2 separate regions of the Homo sapiens genome follow, and region 2 is reported to be linked to region 1. Evidence: microRNA targets listed by miRTarBase, many of them from high-throughput screens and not tested one by one. Region 1 holds a microRNA gene; the other region holds the end of a gene's coding sequence.

What was found. Region 1 holds the annotated microRNA hsa-miR-3922-5p (UCAAGGCCAGAGGUCCCACAGCA, at 1,251-1,273, shown strand). A microRNA usually pairs through its seed, bases 2 to 8, with sites in the 3' UTR of a target mRNA and lowers its output. Matches are read on the target gene's strand: a 7mer-m8 pairs with bases 2 to 8, a 7mer-A1 pairs with bases 2 to 7 and ends in A, and an 8mer does both.
Region 2: the mRNA of ZC3H12A is a reported target of hsa-miR-3922-5p. Seed matches in the 3' UTR shown: 7mer-m8 at 988-994.

What each region holds. Positions count from the first base shown.
Region 1 is chr12:104,590,395-104,594,544 of GRCh38, forward strand. It overlaps MIR3922 (microRNA 3922), which reads left to right and starts at 1,239; the gene lies at 1,239-1,322. All of the region lies in intron 1 of CHST11 (carbohydrate sulfotransferase 11), which reads left to right.
Region 2 is chr1:37,483,030-37,487,029 of GRCh38, forward strand. It overlaps ZC3H12A (zinc finger CCCH-type containing 12A), which reads left to right. Exons shown (of 6, transcript NM_025079.3): 6 at 1-1,348. The coding sequence ends at 582. Among named protein-coding and RNA genes, the nearest start is that of MIR6732, 4.8 kb to the left of the region's middle. RefSeq lists an enhancer at 1,309-1,438.

The DNA.
Region 1 (4,150 bases):
GGTGACTGTATTTCAAAACGGTTTAGTTTCCTGTCTTTTGGGAAAGGCACTTCCATTCATTCATTTATTCATTCAGCCCTGAATTTAGGCCCCTTTTAGGAACCGAGGATATTGTGATAGACAAGACAGTCCAAGTCCTTTTGCTCATGAAACTTAGGGTCTCGTGGTGGCAACAGACAACAGCCAATAAAGCATTTAAGATAAAAAGACAGGAGAGAATCAATGCCTTGAAGAAGCATATGGCAGGCGGGGCGCAGTGGCTCATGCCTGTAATCCCAGCACTTTGGGAGACTGAGGCGGGCAGATCACTTGAAGCCAGGAGTTCAAGACCAGCCTGGCCAACATGGTGAAACCCTGTGTACTTAAAAATGCCAAAAATTAGCTGGACATGGTGGCACACGCCTGTAATCCCAGCTACTTGGGAGGCTGAGGCACAAGAATTGCTCGAACATGGGAGGTGGGGGTTGCAGTGAGCCAATATCGCACCACTTTACTCCAGCCTGGGTGAGAGAACGAGACCCTGTCTTAAAAAAAAAAAAGAATATAGCAAAGAATGGGAGGAACAGGAGAGAGAGGAAGTGAGGCCATGGGAGACAGTGTGTCCAGGGAAGCTCTCTCTGGGGACCTGATGATGCGGTCAGAGGGCAGAGTAAAGAAGAGAACAGTTGTTGGTGTTGGGAGAGGGACTCCAGGCTGACAGAGCAGTGAGTGCAAAGGCCCTGAGGCTCATGCTTGGTTTTTTGGAGAAAGAGCAAGATGACCAGTATGGTGGAGGAGGGGCAGAGGCAGGCGGGGCTATATCATGGGGGGCCTCTGGGCCGTGGAAAGACTTTGGATTTTGTTCTAAGATGGTGGCAGGTCTTTGGAGCAGGAAGGCTGTTATGATCTGATTTACGTTTCTAGAAGATTATTCTGGCCGCTGGTAGAGAATAGAGTAGGGAGGCCAGGGTGGCAGCAGGGATACCAGTTAAGAGGTTTTTGTCATAGCCCAAGGGGAAGGCGATGATGGCTTGTACCAGGGCGGTGAGGACAGAGACATGCTGATGGGTGGGGCATAGCAGACAGAAAAGGGAATTTAAGAAAATTCCTCACTGTTTGGTCACAGCTAGGGGCATGATGGTGGCATCCACTGTGATGGTGAACATTGTGGGAGGGAAATTTTAGCTGTGGAAGCCATGAGTTCTCTTTATCAATGTTTAACATATTCCATTCATAAGCACCCTCAAATTGAACTTAAAGGAAGAGTCAAGTCAAGGCCAGAGGTCCCACAGCAGGGCTGGAAAGCACACCTGTGGGACTTCTGGCCTTGACTTGACTCTTTCCAGATATCTGAGTCAGACGTTTTCAAAGCATGCACCATGACCCACGGGTGTGTTGTAAAATGGATTTAATGAGTTGTGACTAGTAGTTCATAAAAGAACAATAGAAAATGTTAGTTTGTCACACATAGTAAGGATAGTACTTTTAAAATAAAACTTGTCTCGGTTTTCTATATATATTTGTATGTAAATCACATGCAAAAAGAGAAAGGGATGAGGCCAGGAATCAGGAGATCTTCATTTTAGCTGCAACTCGGCCTATAGCCAGCAGTGTGTCCTTGGACAGATCACCTTCTATCCTGCACGTCCATTTCTTTACCTGCAAAATGGGGTTAGGGATGAGGTGGTTTAATCTTTTAATACCTGGCACCTCCTCCCCTCCCCTCCCCTCTTCTCCCCTCCTCTCCCCTCCCATCTCCTCTCCTCCCTTCCCCTTCTCTCCCTTACTCTCCCTTTCTCTCTTCTCCCTTCCCGTCTCTCATGCTCTCAGTGGGTGGGCAGCATACCCCACTGGCCAGGAGGATTATGTTTGAGGTTTGTGTCTTAATCTGTTCAGGGTGCTACAACAAAATACCATAAACTGGGTGGCTTATACACAACAGAAATTTATTCCTCACAGTTCTGGAGGCTGGGAAGTCCAAGACCAAAGCATTGGCAGATTTGGTGTCTGGTGAGGCCCTGCTTTCTGGTTCATAGACAGTCCCTTCTTGCTATGTCCTCACATGGTGGAGGGGGTAAGTGGTCTTTTTTGGGACGTCTTTTATAAGGGCACTAATTCCATTTAAGAGGGCTCTACCCCCATGACCAAATCACCTTCCAAAGTCCCCACCCTCTAAAATGATTATCTTGGGGGTTAATATTTTAACATGAATTTTAGTGGGGACACAAACATCCAGATTATAGCACTTTGCGTCCTGCCATTTCTCTTGCTCAGTCAGAATCAGTTTTGAGGATACTTTCCCTAACCACGTAGATTCATTCTCTTTCCTTCTGTGAAAGTCATTGGACTAGGTGGTCTCTAAAGGGCCCTTTTTGTCTTAGATGTGCCTGATGGTGCACTAACCTGTCAGGTTGACAACTGATTTGTACTTGGACAGGGATCTTATACTTTCGGAAGTAGGCATGCTGTCTGGGCATGTTTCTGCAGATGGGCCAGAATTCTCTAAAAGAGGGAATGGGTTGGCTGCTGGGGCCATTGGTTTGGGGGACTCCATTTGGTGACCCAGTTCTTCTCCTGGCCGGTAAATATTTTAATGTATACACTATATTCTTCAAAGCTGAGTATTAGAGTCCCCACTGGAAGGCTTCCATGTCAGTAAATCTCACGGCTCTTGGATGAAGCTGCATCTTTTCCCAAGCTATACCAAGCACATTCACGTAATTCTTAGATTTACTCCCTTGACCTTCATATGCCAAGTTTAATTCACTTTAGTTCTACAACCACCTTCTACAGGCTGGGCGTCGGGAGGGGCTCTTGCTTTGAGGAGCTGGAGTAGGAGAGGCCAACACGGGAATGGCTATGATATAGGTTCAGATTATTCTCAAATCAAATCAACCCCAAATCCCTCAGTATTCTTCAGTGAATTTGCTTATAGGGTCTCCAGTAAGGAGAGAGAGATTTGGGAATGGTTTTAATGGCTCTGAATTGTCCCTGTGGGAGGGACTGGGTGAGGGAAGGAATGGGAAGTTGGAAAACTTAAGTTTGATAATGGCATGAATGACAGGTTAGGCTGAACCCTATTTTCACCTCACTGTTTCGAGGCTCCTGAAAAGTCAGTTGTGAATACAAGCGTGCTGAATGTTTTGTAAAGCTCCTGAAGGCCTGATTGGTGGGAGGATATCGGGTCAACATTTGGGACTGCCTATTTGCTTGGTCTCTATCAGTCCCAAACATCTGTAAGCTGTGACATGTCCCATTTCCCAGGAGTGGGGGAAAGCATGCTGGTTTGTGGGTTTGAATCCCAACTCTGACATTCACTAGCTATGTCGCTGGGTCAGTCCTTAACTTCTTTGAGCCTCAGCTTCCTTGTCTGTAAAATGGGTGTGATACGACCTACCTCCTGGCTGGTGGTAAGTAATAGAGAGAGACAGTAATGAAGGCTCATGTTTACTGGGTCTTGGAGAGTTCATTTAAGGCACATCACAGCACCACGACAGCATATCATATTAATTTTTCTTTTTGATTTAACTACTTTGGCTAAGGTAATTAAACCACTTTGAGGAAGCATTGGCACTTTGAGAAGAATTTTTCAGGAGAGAACATGCTAACTCCTCTTCTTTGTTCATTTGCTATTAGTAAGTCATTTGGTCTGATACCCTTTAGTAGAATATCTTTGGTTAAGTCCTCAGATCACTTGATCTGTTGTTTTTATTCATTTGACACAAACATACCGAGTACCTGCTATGCACGGAGCACTTAGGCAGTGGACAGGTAGAGAGGGGCAAACCTGGCAGGTGAGGGGCTTGGCCAGGCCCAGGTGTGATCTCCAGCCCTGCTTTGGGACCTCTGGCCATTCTGTCCCCACACTGGGCCCAGTATTTTCCTCTGCAAATGAGCAGGGTGACCAGACGAGGGCTAAGAAACCCTCAGACTCCAAACATGAGTTTGGATTCAAAGAGCTACAGGATCCTTGAAATAAAATGAAATCTCACAGAGATAGTGGTTCCTGGGTATTTTTAAATCTCGGAGTGGATTAGCTTCAGATGTAGTTTTCGGGAGGACTTATTGGCTTCTGTTTACCTCTCATATTTATGAGAACGGTTTAGGATTGAACCATGTCTAAGCCAAACTGTGATGTAGAAGGCTTCGGGCTTCTGTACTCTCCCTCCTC
Region 2 (4,000 bases), not on the chromosome of region 1:
CCTAGCGGGGGCAGTGGCAGCAGCTTTGGGCCCACAGACTGGCTCCCACAGACGCTGGACTCACTCCCGTACGTCTCCCAGGATTGCCTGGACTCGGGCATTGGCTCCCTGGAGAGCCAGATGTCGGAACTTTGGGGGGTTCGAGGAGGAGGCCCTGGTGAGCCGGGCCCACCCCGAGCCCCTTACACGGGCTACAGTCCCTATGGATCTGAGCTCCCAGCCACCGCAGCCTTCTCTGCCTTTGGCCGGGCCATGGGTGCTGGCCACTTCAGTGTCCCTGCCGACTACCCACCCGCGCCCCCTGCCTTTCCACCTCGAGAGTACTGGTCTGAACCATACCCACTGCCCCCACCCACATCAGTCCTTCAGGAGCCCCCAGTGCAGAGCCCAGGGGCTGGCAGGAGCCCGTGGGGCAGGGCAGGCAGCCTGGCCAAGGAGCAGGCCAGCGTGTATACTAAGCTGTGTGGTGTGTTTCCCCCGCACCTGGTGGAGGCTGTGATGGGGCGCTTCCCACAGCTCCTGGACCCCCAGCAGCTGGCTGCCGAGATCCTCTCCTACAAGTCCCAGCACCCCAGTGAGTAAGCTGCCTGTGGCTGGCAAGGGCAGCACCCCCAGCCTCCAAGGGCCGTCAGGCTGGGCTTTGGGCCATTGAGCAGCCCATTCCCAGCCCTGAGGCCCACCCCAGAGGCTGGACAGAGGGAGGATTCAAGTCGGGAAGGAAACCCACAAACCAAAGATACTGTAGGATTGGTTCTGGCCCATGCAGCACCTCTAGCTGTCTGCCTCAGTGGGTCAGAAGCGATCACCCTGTTGATACACATTGTATCTCTGTAGTTTAAGGAGACGCTGCCGGTAACGGCGTCGGTCCGTGGCTGAGGCCCAAACCGTCTTTTCTCTCAGAGGGTGGGGAGGGAGGTGGGGGCAGCAGAGGCCTGGGCTGGGTGCCCTGTGCACGCCACCCCACTTCCGCCCTACCCCTGGGACGTTGGCCTTGGCTGGCTAGTTGGGCACCGTGTGCCTGCCCTCCAAGGGCCTCCTCTACGCCAATGAGGCCTCATCTGTGCTCTCGCTGGGCACGTGGCTTCATGTCAGTAAGCAAGATGCTTCTTAATAACCCACCTTCTGCCCCACTCTATTCCTTATCCTGCTGCCCCTGTAGGGGTCAAGGGCCCTCCGTCTACACCCTCTTCTTCTCCTCCATCCTTTATTCAGAGTCATCTCGCCCTTCCCCATGGGTGGGGGAACCTGTGTTTGTTTGTGTGCACATGTAAATTTTAAATATTTTAAGCAGAAAGTCCTTACCTCCTGTAACACATCAATAAAGTACAATCATTGTGAGCCCTTTCAAGAGGTGATTGTCTTTGTTATGCTCAGGGCTTTGGGCTGGCCTCTGGGTGAGGAAAGGCCAGCAGGTATGCACCCCGACCTCCTTCACCCCAGGAGGAAGCCCCTCCACACCAGCTCCCTGACCCTTCTCTGGAAGGAAGATTTCTAACAAACATTCACCAGGAATGCATAGCTCCTTGGGGATGGGGCATCTTTCCCGAGGCCTTGGTCTGGGCCTTGTTAGGAGGTGCCCATGGACGCACGAGCGGGCAGGGGGCTGGAGGGGGCAGTTAGGCAGCAAAAGTGTAAAAGGATTTGGAGTCCAGTTTTATCTGCAAAAAGAAATCTTACTTACAATATACTTGGGCTTCTGTTTGTTTTTGTGGGACAGGAAGCTAAAATACCAGACTGTCCAGTTCATTATCAGCCACTTGGCAATGCTGAATGACTTGCCCAAGGTCCCGCAGAGGAAGGACAGACTGGGGCAGGGCCTTGAGTCCTGGTTCTGGTCCCCAAACCAGGGGGGCAGGAGGGGTGGGCCTGGACACTAGTTTGCAGCAACTCAGGGCCCTGCAGGGATGGGGGAGGTGAAGGTACCCTCAGCCCCACACCTCACAACTCTCCTAGGTTTCAACATCCACATAGGAATCCTTCCAGGCCAGGCATGCTGGCTCACGCCTGTAATCCCAACACTTGGAAGGCCAAGGTGGGCAGATTGCTTGAGCTCAGGAGTTCGAGACCAGCCTGGCCAACATAGGGAAAGCCTATCTCTACAAAAAATACAAAATTGGCTGGGTGTGGTGGCATACACCTGTACCTGTAGTCCCAGCTACTTGGGCTACGGTAGGAGGATCACCTGAACCTCAGGAGGTGGAGACTGCAGTGAGCCATGATTGCACCATTGTGCTCCAGCCTGGGTGACAAAGTGAGACCCTGTCTCAAAAAAAAAAAAAAGGAATCCCTCCAGCATGGCAGCTGAAAGGACCACCCTACCCACCTGGTCAGCAGCAGATGCCCAGCAACCCCACCTGCCAAGCCCCCGCTGTCTCTGCACACCACAGTGGAGCCTTGAGGCTGCCTGGAAAAAATAGGGAATGTTCTCACCCCTCTTCCCATCCCAGCTGCCAGCTGGCCACAGCCTTGGGAGTTCATACTTGCTTACTTGCTTCTTGACCAGAGCTGAACTCTAAGCCATTTGCTGCTTCTGCTGTGTGTGGGGAGGGATGGGCAGTGGGCAGCAGGTCCTGACTGGCTGTGCCGTGTCTGGAGGCCAAGTCTGGCCCTGCTGGTTCACTGATAAGCCCCGGCAAGGGTGGCAGAGCTCATGTGGCAGGTGCCTGAGGGGCTGGGATCTAGGGAGGACTGGTCAGTTCCATGCCCCGCTGGCCTGAGCTTGCATCCTGTGCTTTCCAGGCAGGCTTAGATGCCCCTTCAGGCCTCTTTCTCAGTCTGCCAGGCAGAGTGACTCCGAGGCTACCAGGCCCAGTGCCCCAGCTGTGTTTCTTTCCCACGAATTGGGCTTTAACTCCAAAGTTCTCCCCATCACCTCCTGCTCCACTGCCCATTCAAGCAGCTTAGGTAGGTGGTATTTGCTCACAGGGCCTCAGTCTCCCCACCTGTAAAAGGGACACAATGGTCCTTGCCTCTTTCTAGATTTGAGAGAATAACTCAGTTCCTGTGAAAGGAGGAGAGGGAGGGGTCCTGGATTCAAGCCCCCATCACTAGCGATGCAGCCCTGGGCAACCCACTTCCCTCTCAGAGCCTCAGCTTCCTGCCTCTTCAGAGGCAGCTTCCCTCTGAGAGGGGGACAGGGATGGAATGTGACTCCTGCATGCTGGAAAAGATCAAATTCTGGGGAGCTGCCCCAGTTGCTCTTTCCTCCTCTTGTTTTCCTGGTTCCAGGAGCCAGAAGCTGATGAGGAAACCAGTAAGTATGCAAATTCTGGCACTATTGGGAAATGATCCTGGGGAGCTCACAGAGGACAGCCTCCCACCTGCCCTCCCCCACCCCCCCACAGGCCCCCCAACCTTGCCCTTGGGCTCTCACCAGCAGGGGCCGAACCCTGAGTTTTATTGCGAGTTCTGTCTCGCACACATGGGTTAACCCCTCTTGGAGTGAAGCCAGGGTGACTATGGCCAATCTGTCCTCAGAAAACCTCCAGCCTCCCTAGCAGAGAGCAAACGAGCCCACAATGGGATGAAAGATCCCTGCTCTGGATGTCTCAGCCCAGTCCCCATCCCACTTCTCTAGAGTGGGGGAAACTCAGGAGTCCCCAAAGACCTGGGACCTAAGCTAGGAGCAGAACTTTAGAGGTCCGGGGGAGCAGCTCTCCAATCCCCCCATCCCCGCCAGTGCTGCTCACACCCCCCTCGTTGTAGTCTCCTGCAGGGGGGGACAGGTGGTGTCTGGGAAGGGGCCAGTACTCCTCACCGCAGCTGCCACTTCCCTCATCTTCCCCCAGCAAAGCTCTCAGCCCTCCCTTCCCCATGCCTCCTGGAAAAGCCAGCATTTGTCTTCTGTACACAGAAGGGAAAGACCCTAGCCCTGAGGGAGGTGCTGGGCAGGCCTCTACCAAGACAAGAGTGAGTGAGCAGCAGAGAAAGTGGGACTTGGGGGGCACATATCTCTAGGAGCTGCAGGGAAGGAAGTGGTGCAATCAGCCTCAGCCCTGGG